2 separate regions of the Homo sapiens genome follow, and region 1 is linked to region 2. A link means that fine-mapping ties the variant in region 2 to the expression of a gene that starts in the linked region. Tissue or cell type: tibial nerve. Region 2 holds a variant in brackets; the other region holds the start of a gene. All regions are shown on one strand. Distances are from middle to middle.

Evidence for each region. PIP is the estimated chance that this variant, and not a neighbour inherited with it, causes the effect.
Region 1: KANTR starts here. The variant in region 2 is fine-mapped to the expression of KANTR in tibial nerve (GTEx, PIP 0.93).

The regions. Positions count from the first base shown.
Region 1 is chrX:53,090,904-53,099,039 of GRCh38, reverse strand. KANTR (KANTR integral membrane protein) reads right to left here and starts at 4,898. Exons shown (of 3, transcript NM_001397448.1): 1 at 4,756-4,898. RefSeq lists a silencer at 4,570-4,719 and enhancers at 4,780-4,899, 5,210-5,269, 4,982-5,806.
Region 2 is chrX:53,181,265-53,189,400 of GRCh38, reverse strand. It overlaps a transcript of KDM5C not described here. Among named protein-coding and RNA genes, the nearest start is that of MIR6895, 10 kb to the left of the region's middle. RefSeq lists an enhancer at 1-222 and a silencer at 403-482. The variant G/A (reference allele first, on the strand shown) is at 4,886.

The DNA.
Region 1 (8,136 bases), 90 kb after region 2:
ATTAAAAAAAAAAATAGCTGGGCATGGTGGCACATGCCTGTGGTCCCAGCTACTCCGGAGGCTGAGGCAGGAGGATTACTTGAGGCCAGGAGTTTGAGACTAGCCTGGACAACACAACAAGACCCCACCTTTGCAAAATTTTAAAAATTGGCTGGGCGTGGTGGCATGCACCTATAGTCCCAGCTACTTGGGAGGCTGAGGTGGGAAGATTGCTTGAGCCTGGGAGGTCGAGGCCGCAGTGAGCCGTGATCGCGCCACTACACTCTAGCCTGGGTGACAGAGCAAGACCCTGTCTCAGAAAAAAAAAGAAAAAAAGTTAGTGGATGAGGAGTTACTTCTTATGGATGAGCAAAATAGTGATTTCCTGGGATGAAATCTACTCCTGGTGAAGATGCTGTGAACACTGGAAACAACAACAAAGGATTTAGAATATTACATAAACTTAGTTAACAAAGTAGTAGCAGGGTTTGAGAGAACTGACTCCAGTTTTGAAACAAGTTCTACTGCGGGTAAAATGCTATTAAACAGCATCACATGCTACAGAGAAACCCTTTGTGAAAGGAAGAGTCGACGTGCCAAACTTCATTGATATCTTATTTTAAGAATTTGCCACAGCCACCCCAACCAGCAACTACCACCCTGCTCAGTCAGCAACCATCAACATCGAGGTAAGACCCTCCACCAGCAAAAAATTACAACTTGCTGAAGGCTGGGATGATCTTTAGCATTTTTTAGCAATATAGTATTTTTAAATTAAGGTAAATACTTTTTTTGATACAATGCTATTGTACACTTAATAGACTATGGTACAGTGTAAACATAACTTTTATATGCACTGGGAAACCAAAAAATTCATCTGACTTGCTTTATTGTGTTGGTCTGGAACTGAACCTGTGATATGCCTGTATGTATCAATGTTAATTTTCTAGTTTTGATAGTTACACTGTAATTATATAATTTCTTTCTTTCTTTTTTTTTTTTTTTTTTTTGAGACAGAGTCTCGCTGTGTCACCCAGGATGGAGTGCAGTGGCATGATCTCAGCTCACTGCAACGTCTGCCTCCTGTGTTCAAGCAATTCTCCTGCCTCAGCCTCCCAAGTAGCTGGGACTACAGGCACAAGCCACCACACCCAGCTAATTTTTGTATTTTTAGTAGAGACAGGGTTTCACTATGTTGCCCAGGCTGGTCTCGAACTCCCGACCTCAGGTGATCTGCCCACCTTGGCCTCCCAAAGTGCTGGGATTACAGGCGTGAGCCACTGCGCCCAGTCTGTAATTATATAATTTCTTAACATGTGGGGAATCTAAGTGAAGAATATATGAGAATTCTTGTATAATTTTTGAAGCTTTTTAAAAGTTTGAAATTATTTTAAGTTTAAAAATTCTTGGCTGGGCCTGGTGGCTCACACCTGTAATCCCAGCACTTTGGGAGGCCAAGGCGGGTGGATCACTTGAGGTTAGGAGTTCAAGACCAGCCTGGCCAACATGGTGAAACCCTGTCTCTGCTAAAAATACAAAAATTAGCCAGGCGTGGTGGTGCATGCCTGTAGTCCCAGCTACTCTGGAAGCTGAGGCAGGAGAATCACTTGAACCTGGGAGGCGGAGGCTTCAGTGAGCCAAGACTGTGCCACTGCATTCTAGCCTGGGTGACAGAGTGAGATTCTGTCTCAAAAAAAAAAAAAAAAAAAACTTAAAACAAATGAAAAAAGGGTTGTTTGAGGAGGAAGAATGTCTGGAAAGGGTAACTAGGAGCAAGCATACCCACCCTCACCCTCACCACCCAGTTTCCCGGTAAGAGGGGTATGAGAGGGCTGCCGGGAGGACAGAGTGTTCAGGGAAAGCCAGGCTGCTACTTAAGCAATGGTTCTCACTGAGAGGTGGGGGCTGGACAATTAAAGGGTGTTTCAGGGCATTTTTTCTTTTTTTTGAGACGAAGTTTCGCTCTTGTTGCCCAGGCTGGCTCACTGCAACCCCTGCCTCCTGGGTTCAAGCGATTCTCCTGCCTCAGCCTTCCGAGTAGCTGGGATTACAGGCATGTGCCACCATGTGGGCCTGGCTAATTTTTGTATTATTAGTAGAGACGGGGTTTTACCATGTTGGCCAGGCTGGTCTTGAACTCCTGACCTCAGGTGATCCACCCACCTCGGCCTCCCAAAGTGCTGGGATTACAGGTGTGAGCCACAGTGCCCGACCCATTTTTTACTGCTTTTTTTTTTGAGACAGGGTCTCGCTGTCACCCAGGCTGGAGTGCAGTGGTGCAATCCTGGCTCACTGTAACCTCTGCCTCCTGGGCTCAAGCAATCCTCCCATCTCAGCCTCCTAAGTAGCTGGGACCACAGGCGTGCACCACAACACCCGGCTAATTTTTGTATTTTTTGTAGAGACGGGGTTTCATCATGTTGGCCAGGCTGGTCTCGAACTCCTGGACTCAAGCGATCTGCCCACCTTGGCCTCCCAAAGTGCTGGGATTACAGGCGTGAGCCATCACACCCGGCCCTGTTTGGGGGGCATTTTTGACTGTGACAATAATTGGAGATCATCAGTGACAACCCTAGCTATGGACCAGGGATGCTCAGCCCTCTGCAGTGTACAGGACAGCTCCACACCACAAAGAATCATACCACATTCCATACAACTTTAGAATATCTCACCAGTAATGTAGGTGAAAAACCTGTTCATTTGTTCTTTTATTCATTCAACAAACATTCATTGAGAAAGTCTACTAGGTGTCAAGCACTATTTTAGGTAATAGGAATGTATCATAGAACAAAAAAGACAAAAATCCCTGCCCTTCTGGAGCTTATAATTGAGTGGGAGAGTCAGACAATAAACAGCAAACATACTAAGCAGTTAATGCTACACTGTGAAAAAGGTGTAGAATACCATGGAACAGACAGAGCAGGGGCATATTAGGGGAGAGCTGCAATTTTAAACAGGATGGTTGGGGGGCCCTCTGAGAAAGTGACAGCTGAGTAGAGGCCTGAAGGAAGCAAGGGCCTGAGCCTTGTGGGTATTTGAGGAAAGAGCATTCCAGATACACGGAATGCAAAACCCCTGAGGCGGAAGTGTGCCTAAGGTGTTCAAGTAATAGTAAGGTGGCCAGCATGGGTAGATAGAGTGAGCAAGGGGGGAGAGTGGTGGGAGATAAGGTCAGGGAGATTAAGAGGGTCTCATCATGGATATTAATATATACTGATTTTTCCAGAAATTTAACGACCATATAAACTGAGAAACTCTTCCACATTGTTTTGTTTAGAACTTTGTGAAGAATTGTTCATTATTTAGGAAAACTGTGTCACTCTACCTGTGGCTTCTGAATCACCAATCAACACACATGTAGCTGTCACTATCATTAAGTGTAAGACCATTTCATCATGTCTTCTAATGGAGTCATATCCCAGTCTTTGCATATATATGTGCGATATATGTATAATATAATATTATATATTACTCTTCCTTTACTACTCTCTATATTACAATTAGGGCATTATATTGGTTTTCAGGGAATTATGGGTGTAGACAGATTCTATTTTCTATCCATTTCATTTTAGAATAGTGAAGCATTTCAAAATACACCTTATTAAAAAAAAAAAGCAATGTTGGGTCCAACAGGTATGAGAACGACCAAAGCATAGCAAGAAAATAAAGGGAGTATTCAGAAGCCAGGATGAGAATGGAGGGAATTTTGCTGATAACTGAAGGTGAGTTCCTTAAGGCCTGGTCAAAGGATTTCAGGATGGAAATAGAAAATAGGATGTCCAGGGCTGTATGGAGACATAACCAGGAGATCTGTGGGCTTCCTGTGGTGACTAACATTATATAGGATAAGGGGCTATTAAAAAGTGGTTTTTAATCTAAGTTGCTCCCAACTTTGGGTGTCTCTACCTGTTTAACAGAGTAGGCTGGGGAGCAAAGAGAGTTCTCTCTTCAATGACACCAGAAGCAACCCAAAGCCAGGCTCCATTTTTTACCCACAGAACAGGTCGGAGCCCCAGGCTAAGCTCATGTCCTCGGGGGTAAAACTTATTGCTATAAACTATGCACCTCTAACCTCTTTAGGGTTGAGAAAGAGACGGGTAAAAAGAGGAAAAACAGTAACAGAGAAAGACAGAAGCATTCAGAAAGATCCAATGGAGGAAGGGTCAGAGACAGAGAAAAGACAGAAACCAAGAGAGACAATATTCTTTTCAGTCAAGATAGTCATTATTTATTGAAAATTTTCTAAGGACCGGGTGCAGGGCAAAGTAATGCACATGCATTGTCTCAGGTACACATTATCAGACCCCCATTTGGCAGATGAGGAAACTGAGGCCCAGGCTGGTGAAGGAGATAGCTCAAGGTTTCATAGCTAGTTTAAACTGGTCAGGATTCAGCATCTTATATCTACTACGTCTCAAAAAGTGGGACAGAGACAGAGATGGGAGAGGGGATGCAAAGACAGACACGCACGCAGACGATCACGTGAGCGGCAGACCTGCATGGAACCGTTTCGAAAGACACTGAGGGTGGGAGGTGGGGCCGCGGGAGGGCAGCAACGGGCACCGACCGCTCCGCAGGGTACTCACCTGGTTGCAGTCTGGGAGCCGCAGGAGCACTCGGCTTCCCTTTGCGACCCGCACGATCCTCCGCAACCCGCTGACCTAGGGTTGAGAGGCCGCCCCAGTAAAAGCTCGCGCAGGCCCCACCCCTCGCGCGCTTCGGCCGGCCTCTTCCCGCTGCCACTCCCCCCACCGCCCCGTCTTTATGGCTTCTCACCGTACACCTCCGGCCGTCGCCGCCGCCGCCCCTGCCGCGCGCGCACAGACACCAGAGGCCTACAGCAAGATCTGAAGGATACGCTGGACGGAACCCTTCCACGGGCTGCAGCGCGAGCAGGGGCACGGGCCTACGCCGCTACCGACGGCTCCCCGGCTCCCATTGGAGGAGTGCCCTTCTGCCTTTCCAGGGATTGGCTGGGGATGGAAACATTTTATTTTTACCCCCGAGGCTTAGAGCCAAACCGAGGAAAACTCCGCCCCTTCGGGGGACTTTGATTGGTTAAAGAGCCAAGCCCACCCTTTAATAGGATTGGCCAGGAAAGGAGTGCTTGTCATGGCCCTTTGCCTGTCTATTCGACAGGTCTTCAGGCGGCTACTTGGGAATACGCAGGCGGGAAGCCGGAAGCCACGCCAGGCGCCGAGTCACTGCACAATCGAGATGCCTGGCTTCTTTGACGTTTTACTCTCCATAAGCCACCTTGCACTGCCACCGCTCTGCTAAGAGACGCGATTCTGCCCCTAGTTTCTCACAGTTCCACACCCACCTGCAGAGATTCCTAAGCCAGGTTTCTCTCGCTCAAAGTGAGCAGAGTTCCTTATTCCATGCATGGAGGATGAGGTGGCTATGGGGATGTGGCGTGTCACCTACCAGTCCCTGATACCTGCTGAGACATTGGTCAAGTGACAACCTCGCTAGGAGCCTCAGTTTAACCATCTGGAAATGGAAAGATGTTTTAAAATTTTCCTCACAATGTGTGAGGATTAAATGAGAGGGCAAATATAGATCAGTTGCCTGGGGCATAAATAATTAAGTTCTCTCCTCCCAATTCTTTCCCAGTATTCAGGCGGACAGAACTTATGGCCCAGAGAGGCAAACTGACTGGCTTGAAGTCACACAGCCAGGCCCCACCCCTCGCGCGCTCCGGCCCTGCCTCTTCCCGCTACCACTCCCCACCACCGCCCCGTCTTTGCGTCTTCTTACCGTACACCGCCGGCAGTCGGCGCAGTAAGACCCAGAATAAAACCCAGGCTTCCAAAGGAAAACTGTTTAAGAAGGAAGGAGAGATGGGAAGGACCCTCCTATTTGCAAGGGTTCTTAATTTGTATTCTGCAGACCTCTAATCGAGGCTGGGGACAGGGTTTGGAGAGGTCCATGAATTTGGATGGGAACAAATTTACACCTTTATGGCCGGGCGCAGTGACTCATGCCTGTAATCCCAGCACTTTGGGAGGCCGAGGCGGGCGGATCACCTGAGGTCGGAGTTCGAGACCAGCCTGACCAACATGGAGAAACCCCATCTCTACTAAAAATACAAAATTAGCCGGGCGTGGTGGCACATGCCTGTAATCCCAGCTACTAGGGAGGCTGAGGCAGGAGAATCGCTTGAACCTGGGAGGCGAAGGTTGCCGTGAGCTGAGATCGTACCATTGCACTCCAGCCTGGGCAACAAGATTGAAACTCCGTCTCAAAAAAATAAAACAAAATTACATCTTTATTTTCCCTCTCCTCTAACTGAAATTTAGCATTTTTCAATAAAGAATGTAACTAGGCATAGTAGCAGCAGTAGTAGCAGTACTGATTGTCACTAATAGAAATCAGAGATTTTCATATCACATTATAGATGTTGCAGATCTCTTGAAAATCATATAATTTCAATCATTATTTTAAAATCATGATAGTCATTAGACCCTCCATTAAATCTTATGATTTAATGGATTAATGGGGAGTACATATACGATTATACTATAGCACATATTTGCTTTTTCCATATTTTAATAACTATATTTCAATGTAATCAATTTCTTTTGTAATTCTAGATATTTTATTTTATGAATTTAAACAATTTTTTTTTTCTGAGAAAAGGTCTGGTGGGGCATGGTGGCTCATGCCTGTAATCCCAGAACTTTGGGAGGTCGGAGGCGGGTGAATCACCTGAGGTCAGGAGTTCCCGACCAGCCTGGCCAACATGGTGAAACCCTGTCTCTACTAAAAATACAAAAATTAGCCGGGCGTGGTGGCGGGCGCCTGTAATCCCAGCTACTCGGGAGGCTGAGGCAGGAGAATTGCTTGAACCCAGGAGGTGGAGGTTGCAGTGAGCCGAGATCGCACCATTGCACTCCAGCCTGAGCAACAAGAGTGAGACTCCATCTAAAAAAAAAAAAAAAAAAGAAAAGAAAAGAAAAAGAAAGGTCCCATTAGGCTTCACTAGATCACCAAAGGGGTCCATGGCACAAAAAATATTAAGAATATTTGTCTTGAACTCTAGGCTCCAGGAGGAAAAAGACTTGCTCTATTGGCTGGGTGCGGTGGCTCACGCCTGTAATCCCAGGACTTTGGGAGGCCGAGGCGGGCTGATCATGAGGTCAGGAGATCGAGACCATCCTGGCTAACATGGTGAAACCCCGTCTCTATTAAAAATACAAAAAATTAGCCGGGCGTGGTGGCAGGCGCCTGTAGTCCCAGCTACTCGGGAGGCTGAGGCAGGAGAATGGCGTGAACCCGGCAGGCGGAGCTTGCAGTGAGCGGAGATTGTGCCACTGCACTCCAGGCTGGGCAACAAAGAAAAAAAAAAAAAGACTTGCTCTATCTTGTTTCCCTGCTGTATCCCTATCACCCAGTTCAGTACTTCAGGCACACAGTAAGTACTCATAAGTGTTTACTGAATGAATAATAGGATTCCTTCCCAACCATCCTGCACACCCCCAACTGGGGGAGCCAGTGCCAGCCCTTTGGGTCACCTAAGGAGGGACATTCTTGAATCTAGTTTTGTCCCTGCCAATCCGATTCTACTCACAGAAGTAGGTGGCACTTTAAAGGTCTGGTCCCAGGAAATCCCAGGAACCTCCCACCCAGGAGCAGGGCCCTCTGCTGCAAAGGAGCGAGGGCAAGCTAGGAAGCATATGAAGACAAGTAGTTTCAACATGGGAACAGGCCCTAGGGCACATTGGGCCCATGACTCTTCATCCTCCTGGTTTCTGTTTAAGGTCTCAGCCAATGGGGCCTGTCTTCTCTGGCCTTCAGCGAAGACAGTATCTTGGAGCTAGATGTGACCTTAAAGACCTAGAACAGCCCTCTCTTTCGGAGGTCCAGACTGAAGAGTGAGGGCACAGGGAACAAGATGTTACTCTGGGCAAAGAACATCCTGTCCTCACATGGCTCAGCCGAGGACATGAGCACCCTGGCCAACTATACTAGAATACTATGATTGACTCTTAAGAGCATCACTGAAGATGAAGACCAGAGGCCCTCTCTAACAGGGTGGGTGAAGAAGAGTCTCAAATGCCAGGATGAGGGGCTGGGGATTTGATTGGGGGGACAGAGAGGAATCAGGGAAGAGCACAGTGAAGGCCAGACTTCAGAGACCTGCTTCAAGGCTAG
Region 2 (8,136 bases):
GAAACAGACCCCTAGGAAAACAGGCCTCACCTAAGCATATCAGCCTGGCAGAGCTGGGATTTTCACCAAATCTCTGTGACCCTAAGGCCTGTGCTAGACAGAAGGGGTCCAAAGTAATCAGCCTGCAATCCGGAAATAGTTCACAGTGGGAGCTCAGTGTTGATCTCTGCTGTTGGTAGGTTGGGAATTCAGCAGTGCTAGGGCCACAGTGGCCTTGGTAGGTTAGAAGTTCATATTGCCGAGGTACATAACCTCCACGCCTATCTCTATTGGTTATATATTTGCTACATAACAAATTATCTCAAAAACAGTGGCTTAAAACAACATTTTATCTCACAGTCCCTGTGGTTAGGAATCTGGGCACAACTTAGCTGAGTTTCTGTTTCAGGGTCTCACAGCCAGCAAGGTGTGAGCTGGGGCTACAGTCATCTCAAGGCTTGACTGGGGAAAGATCTGCTTTCAAGCTGACTCATGTGGCTGTTGGCATATTCAGTCTTGCTGGCTGTTGGCTGGGGGTCACTCTCAGGTTCCTTGCCATGTGCACCCTTTCATAGGGTGGCTCATAATATGGCAGCTTGCTTCATCACAGCAAACAAGTAAGATGAGCTAGAGATAGAAGGAGAGTGCCCACATGCCAGACAGAACTCATAGTCTTTATAACTTAATTTCAGATGTGAGATCCCATCACTTTTGCAATATTCTATTCGTTAGAAGTAAGTCAGTTACTGCCGGGCACAGTGGCTCACACCTGTAATCCCAGCACTTTGGGAAGCTGAGACGGGCGGATCACCTGAGGTCAGGAGTTCGAGACCAACCTGACCAACATGGAGAAACCCCATCTCTACTAAAAGTACAAAATTAGCTGGGTGTCGTCGCGGGTGCCTGTAATTCCAGCTACTCAGGAGGCTGAGGCAGGAGAATTGCTTGAACCCGGGAGGCAGAGGTTGCGGTGAGCCAAGATCGCGCCATTGCACTCCAGTCTGGGCAACAAGTGCAAACTCCGTCTCAAAAAAAAAAAAAGTAGGTCAGTTACTAGGTCCAGGCCACACTCAATGGGAGGGGATTACACAAAGGTGTGAATACCAGGAGGCGGGGGGTCATTGGGGGTCATCTTGGAGACTGACAACTATAGTTTTTCCACTGGTCCTGGTGATTCATGTTGCTTCCACATGCAATATACATTCACCACTTCCCAAAGTCTCTCAAAGTCTCATCCAATTACAGCATTGCCCCAAAATCCAGAACATCTAAATCAGGTCCATATATGAAAGAGGCTGTTTGAGTATGGCTTCTTAACTACTATTTTTCTCCATCTTTAGATTTGTGAGACAATTGTTTTTTTGTAAAAAATTATTTTTTGGCCGGGTGCAGTGGCTCACGTCTGTAATCCCAGCACTTTGGGAGGCCGAGGCGGGCGAATCATGTGGTCAGGAGATCGAGACCATCCTGGCTAACACGGTGAAACCCCGTCTCTACTAAAAATACAAAAAATTAGCCGGGAGTGGTGGTGGGCGCCTGGAGGCTGAGGCAGGAGAATCGCTTGAACCCGGGAGACGGAGTTTGCAGTGAGCCGAGATCACGCCACCGCACTCCAGCCTGGGCTACAGAGCAAGACTCCGTCTCAAAAAAAAAAAAGAAAATTATTTTTTATTTTTATTTTGTTATAGAGACGAGATCTTACTATATTGCCCAGACTGTTCTCAAACTCCTGGGCTCAATCCTTCCACCTTGGCCTCCCAAAGTGCTGGGATTACAGGCATGAGCCACCGTGCCTGGCTGATTTGTGAGACTTAAGAGGCAAGTTATCTGTCCCCAACACACCCTAGGTACAATGGTGGGATAGCCATAGGACAACTACTACAGACATTCTGGTTCAAAAAGAGGGGAAATGGGAGACATAAAGGAGTTACTGGTCTATAACTAACAACTCTGAAATCCAGCTGGGAAAATGGAAGTTTCTTGATTAGATGTCAAGGCCTGGGAATAATATTCTAAGGCTCTGCCCTCTGATCTCTTGGTTTTACCCTGTGTGCCTTCCTTTTTCATGAAAGGCAGCAAATGTTTGCAGCTGAACTGTTTCCCCAGTTTGCTTCCTGCCAGTAGAATTTTGGGGGTCCAGTGGCTTTTTTTCATTTTGTCTTGTCTGTAATCAGCTGCCACCAAGAAATAGTTCCACAGGGGGGCTTGGGTTACTGTTCTGTTGGCAGGTTGGGCACTCAGCAGTGGCTTATAGCCAGATTGGTCGTGGTGGAAGTCCATATTGTGGAGTCCATGCATAACCTCCATGCCTGCCACCATGGCCATTTTGTTCAGGAATCCATTGGGCAAAGAAAAGGGTGACAGATAAGAGGCTGACTGACATCACAGAACAGGACACCTACCTGTCTACTTGATTGAGCTCCTCTTCTGCAGTGGACTCTCTCTGGTGCTTATTTATGTGGGACGTGAATATCTCTGCCCATTCCAAGAGGGACAGCCATATGCTCTTCCTCAGACCTTGTCAATAATATTTCAGTCCTGTTATTTCCAAGTCCTTCACCATTTAGCCGAATCATTAAAAACTACTCATGAAACAGTGGAAACCTATCTATACCTCTGACCAGCTATGTGACCAGGCAGTTGTTCTACTGGGAGAATTTCCCTTCTCACTGTCCTTCAGGATCAACCCTAAGTAGGGCTGTAACACTACAGCTAGCTACTTCAGCAGGGCCAGCATATCATGCAGGGCTATGTATAAACCAAGCTGGAATAGAATATTGTATCCCTTAGTCACCTGGTCACAGGGAATTCCCCATGAGGCTTCAGGTGTGGGTGAGAGAGGGATGGCAGTACAGCAGTTGGGAGTATGATTCACTTGCTCAGGCAGCTTATTCATCATCTAGGCCTGCTTGTATAACTCTATTCTATTCGGTGGTGGAGTGCTACTGCACATAGATAACTTCGTGGCTTGATGAGACAGTTAACACACAACTCACCATGGGGAGCTCAGCTTGCCTGGGTCACTTGGAGTCCTATGCTCAGCCATTCATTCACAAAATAGACCCACTTTTCCATTTTTATTTTTCTCTGCTCCTGGGACTCCTGTTGTCACGATATTGCCACCTCCAATTTTATCCCCCATTTCTTGAATCTTTAACTTGCTCTTCAGCTGTAGTCCTCCTCCCCTTTATGCCATCTATACTGTGTAGATTCGAATAGTATATCCAAGAACTGGAGAAATCACCACAGGATTTCTTCTGGGCCCAGTGTAAGAAAGACTCAGATCAAAACTTCATGTATAACCCCATCCCACTCTGACTGATGGGCTGCAGTGGCAATCTGGATCACCAGAGATTAACATTAATTCAGAACCAATATCCAGTCTATTTCAAAGGCCTGGATATTTCCCTGTCCCCAGTGTACAATGACTGTGGCTGCAGGTCTCTGTGAGGAAAGCAAGGAGGGAGATTTTGCCATACACACTTGTGAAAAGTGTAGCAAGGTCCTTCTTCAGATGGACCCTCCCCTTCATTCAAGGGGCTCTGGTCTATGAACTGGGGAAGAGGCTGGGATGCCACATTTTTGAGGACAAAATCAGGCCTCCATTTTCCAGAGTAGAAGATTATTGGGGTTATATAACAACTAGGACTTTATCAGGCTACCTATTTTGGTCCTAGGGAAACTATCCTTAATTATCCACTGTTATACAAACCTCCACAGGTCAAACCTGATTATTGCTATGGCTCTGCTATCCATTATAAGAACGAGACCCAACTTCTCTTTGGAGATGAACCTGTCACCTCCATTGAAATCAGGGAGCCCATTCATGATTTCTCACCATGACCCTCACCTGCAGAAATAAATCACTGCAATGCTTTATAATACTGGTACTCATTCATGTACTAGTTAAGGTAAAGCTAGCTCCTGGGACAGAAAAAAATTTTCTGAGATTTAAGACAAGTTTACTTCTTGCTTCTGTAGTATTCCAAAACAGGTGTTAATAATTGAGTTTCCCTCTTCTAAGTGATGATTCAGAGGCTTAGGCACTTTCTGTCTAGAAGGTCTGCCATCTTCAAAACATGGTCATCATTGTATTTATTGTCATCTCCATCCTTAATAGCCAGAAGAGGAAAAGACCATGTGGGAGGTTTCTATGAGCCGGATGTAGCACACATCACTTCTCATATTCCATTAGCCAGAACTCAGACAATGGGCATACCCAACTGTAAGGGACACTGACAAATGTAGTCTAAATCTGTCCCTAGGAGGAAGAGGAAACAAGTTTAATGACCACTTAGCTAGTCTCTACCACAGTGTATTTCTCAAAGTCCTGTGAAAGGAATGTCAATGTCCACATAGTCAAAAGGGTGAGTTGAATGTGTTACATATGACTAATCGATTCCAACATTCTTATTGCCCTAAACGATGGATTCCCCTGCCTACACTGTACCATGGAATTTCTGGCATCTTAACCTCATTTAACACAAGCTACTATTGAGTAGAGGTTTTGGTCAATCAATAGAACAATTTTTAGAAATACTCCTAGCTGCTTCAACTAACAAAGTACATCCAGGATTGCTGATGAGTGTACCCATACTGAAAAGTTTGGCCCTACCCAAACCAGATAAAGACATCACAAGAAAATAAAATTACAGACAAATATCCTTTATGAATATAGATGCAAAATCCCCAACAAAATACTAGCAAACTAAATCCAACAGCATATTAAAAGTAGGATACGTCTTGGCCAAGTGGGATTTATCTTAGGAATGCAAGAATGGTTCAACATAAGAAAATCGATCAAGGTAATAACATCACATTAATAGAACAAAGGAAAAGAAACACATGATCATCTCACTTGATGCAGAAAAGGCATTTCAGGCTGGGTGTGGTAGCCAACACTTAT[G/A]ATCCCAGCACTTTGGGAGGCTGAGGTGGGAGGACTGCTTGAAGCCAGGAGTTCGAGACCAGCTTAGGCAACATAGCAAGACCCCATCTCTACAAAAAAAATTTAAAAATTAGCTGGGCATGGTGATGTGTGTCTGTACTCCCAGCTACACGGGAGGCTGAGGAAGGAGGCTCCCTTGAGTCCAGGAGTTTGAGGCTGTAGTGAGCTATGATCATGCCACTGCATTCCAGCCTAGGTGACAGAATGAGACCTCATCTCTCTTAAAAAAATAAAAAAGGCATACAGCTAATAAATTCAGCAAAGTTGCAAGGTGCAAGATCAACACATAAAAAGCAGTGTGCTTTTATACACTAGCAATGAGCAATCCAAAATGAAGTTAAGAAAACAATTCAATTTACAATAGCATCTGAAAGAATAAAATATCTAGGAATAAATTTAATCAAGGAGGAGAAAGACTTGTATATTGAAAACCATGAAACATTGGTGAAAGAAATTAAAGATCTAAAGAAATGGAAAGGCATCTCATGTTCATAGATTGGAAGACTTAATACTGATAAGATGTTGATACTAGCCAAAGTGATCTACAGATTCAACACAGTCCTTATGAAAATTCCAACAGCTTTTTTGCAGAAATGAAAAAGCTAGCGGGGTGCGGTTGCTTATGCCTGTAATCCCAGCACTTTGGGAGGCTGAGGCGGGCAGATCACGAGGTCAGGAGTTCGAGGCCAGCCTGGCCAACATGGTGAAACCCCCGTATCTACTAAAAATAATTTAAAAAAATTATCCGGGCATGGTAATCCATGCCTGTAATCCCAGCTACTCGGGAGGCTGAGGCAGAAGAATTGCTTGAACCTGGGAGGCGGAGGTTGCAGTGAGCTGAGATCGCGCCACTGCACTCCAGCCTGGGTGACAGAGCAAGACTCCGTCTCAAAAAAAAAAAGAAAAAAAAAAGAAATGAAAAAGCTGATCCTCAAATTCATATGGAATTACAAGGGGCCGTGAATAGCCAAAACAATCTTAGAAAAAAAAGAACAAAGTCAAATGGCCAATTTTTTTTTTTCAAGACACAGTCTTGCTCTGTTGCCCAGGCTGGAGTGCAGTGGCGTAATCTTGGCTCACTGCAGTTTGAGGCTCACTGCAGCCTCAAACTCCTGGGCTCAAATGATCCTCCTACCTCAGCATCCCAAGTAGGTGGGATTTAAAAGGCATGTGCCAATACACCCAGCTAATTTTTTTTTTTTTTTTTTTTTTTTGTAGAGACAGGGTCTCACTCTGTTGCCCAGACTGGCCTCAAACTCCTGGGCTCGAGCAGTCCTCCCACCTCAGCCTCCCAAAAATGTTGGGATTACAGGTGTGAGCCACTGTGCCCAGCCACCAATTGATGTTTTACAAGAGTGCCAAGTCCATTCAACGAGGGGAGAGATTAGTCTCTTCAACAGATGGTGCTGGGACAACTGGATTTTCACATGCAAAAGTATGAAGTTGGATGCCTAATTCACACCAGATACCATTAACTCAAAATGGATTAATGACCTAAATTTAAGTCCTAAAACCATAAAACTGGAGGAAAACATAGGAGTTAATGTTCATGACCTTGGATGTGGCAACAGTCTCAGGTGTGACACTACAAGCATGAGCAACAACAGAAAAAACAGATAAATTGGACTTCATCAGAATTAAAAATTTTGTGCATCAAAGGACATCAAGAAAGTGAAAAGACAGCCTACAGAATAAGATAACATATTTGCAGTCATATATCTGATAAGGATTTACTATCCAGAATATACAAACAACTCCTACAACTCAACAACAAAAAGACAAGCAATTCAATTTAAAAATGGGCAAAGGAGGCCAGGCGCAGTGGCTCACGCCTGTAATCCCAGCACTCTGAGAGGCCGAGGTGGGCGGATCACCTGAGGTCAGGAGTTCGAGGCCATCCTGGCCAACATGGTGAAACCCATCTCTACCAAAAATACAAAAATTAGCTGGGCGTGGTGGCATGTGCCTGTAATCCCAGCTACTTGGGAGGCTGAGGCAGGAGAATCACTTGAACCTGGGAGGTGGCAGCTACAGTGAGCCTTTCCAGAAATTTTTATGTTATATATAGTTTACCACAATGAAAAAGTTTGGCCCAGCCAGGCGCAGTGGCTCACACCTGTAATCCCAGCACTTTGGGAGGCTAAGGTGGGTGGATCACCTGAGGTCGGGAGTTCGAGACCAGCCTGACCAACATGGAGAAACCCGTCTCTACTAAAAATACAAAATTAGCCAGGCCTGGCGGTGGATGCCTGTAATCCCAGCTACTCGGGAGGCTGAGGCAGGAGAATCACTTGAAATCGGGAGGCGGAGGTTGTGGTGAGCCGAGATCAAGCCATTGCACTCCAGCCTGGGCAACAAGAGCGAAAATCCATATCAAAAAAAAAAAAAAAACAAAAAAGGGTGGCTCATGCCTGTAATCCCAGCACTTTGGGAGGCCGAGGCGGGCTAATCACGAGGTCAGGGGATCGAGACCATCCTGGCTAACACAGTGAAACCCTGTCTCTACTAAAAATACAAAAAATTAGCCAGGTGTGGTGGTGGGCGCCTGTAGTCCCAGCTACTCGGGAGGCTGAGGCAGGAGAATGGTGTGAACCCAGCAGGCGGAGCTTGCAGTGAGCTGAGATCGCTCCACTGCACTCCAGCCTGGGAGACAGAGCGAGACTCCGTCTCAAAAAAAAAAAAAGTTTGGCCCAATCAAAAATTACACTTCTTTTTCCCGATCTATCATCCATAGAATCAGTTCTCACATATTATGGAGGTTTCTTTTTTTCTTTTTCTTTTTTTTTTTTTTTTTTTTTTTTGAGACATGGTCTCACTCTGTCACCCATATTATGGAGGTTTCTGCCAGTATAAATTAGCTAAATCTTATCATTTGTGTGTGTGTGCTTTCTCCTCATAGGTTTGACTTTACTTCCTGGGACATACAGGAATCTGAATTCAGTAATGGGTCTGGAGGCAGCAAGAGATGATACGGGTGGATCTTGAAAAGATTAGCCTAACAGTGAGAGGGTCCCCAAGTCAGGCAGGACCAGCCCCATAGACTGGGGAAGAAGGGCTGCTTCTGCTGCCAGGGGAAACTCAGTGAGGGTTGGGGTTTAGGGTGCTCAGATCTATCCAAATCAATCCTGATGTTCCTATTCCTAGTCTCAAGGTCCCATTGTTCCCTAATCAGTAGCCATGTTTTTGCATATGAGACCTGGAGATCCTATGAA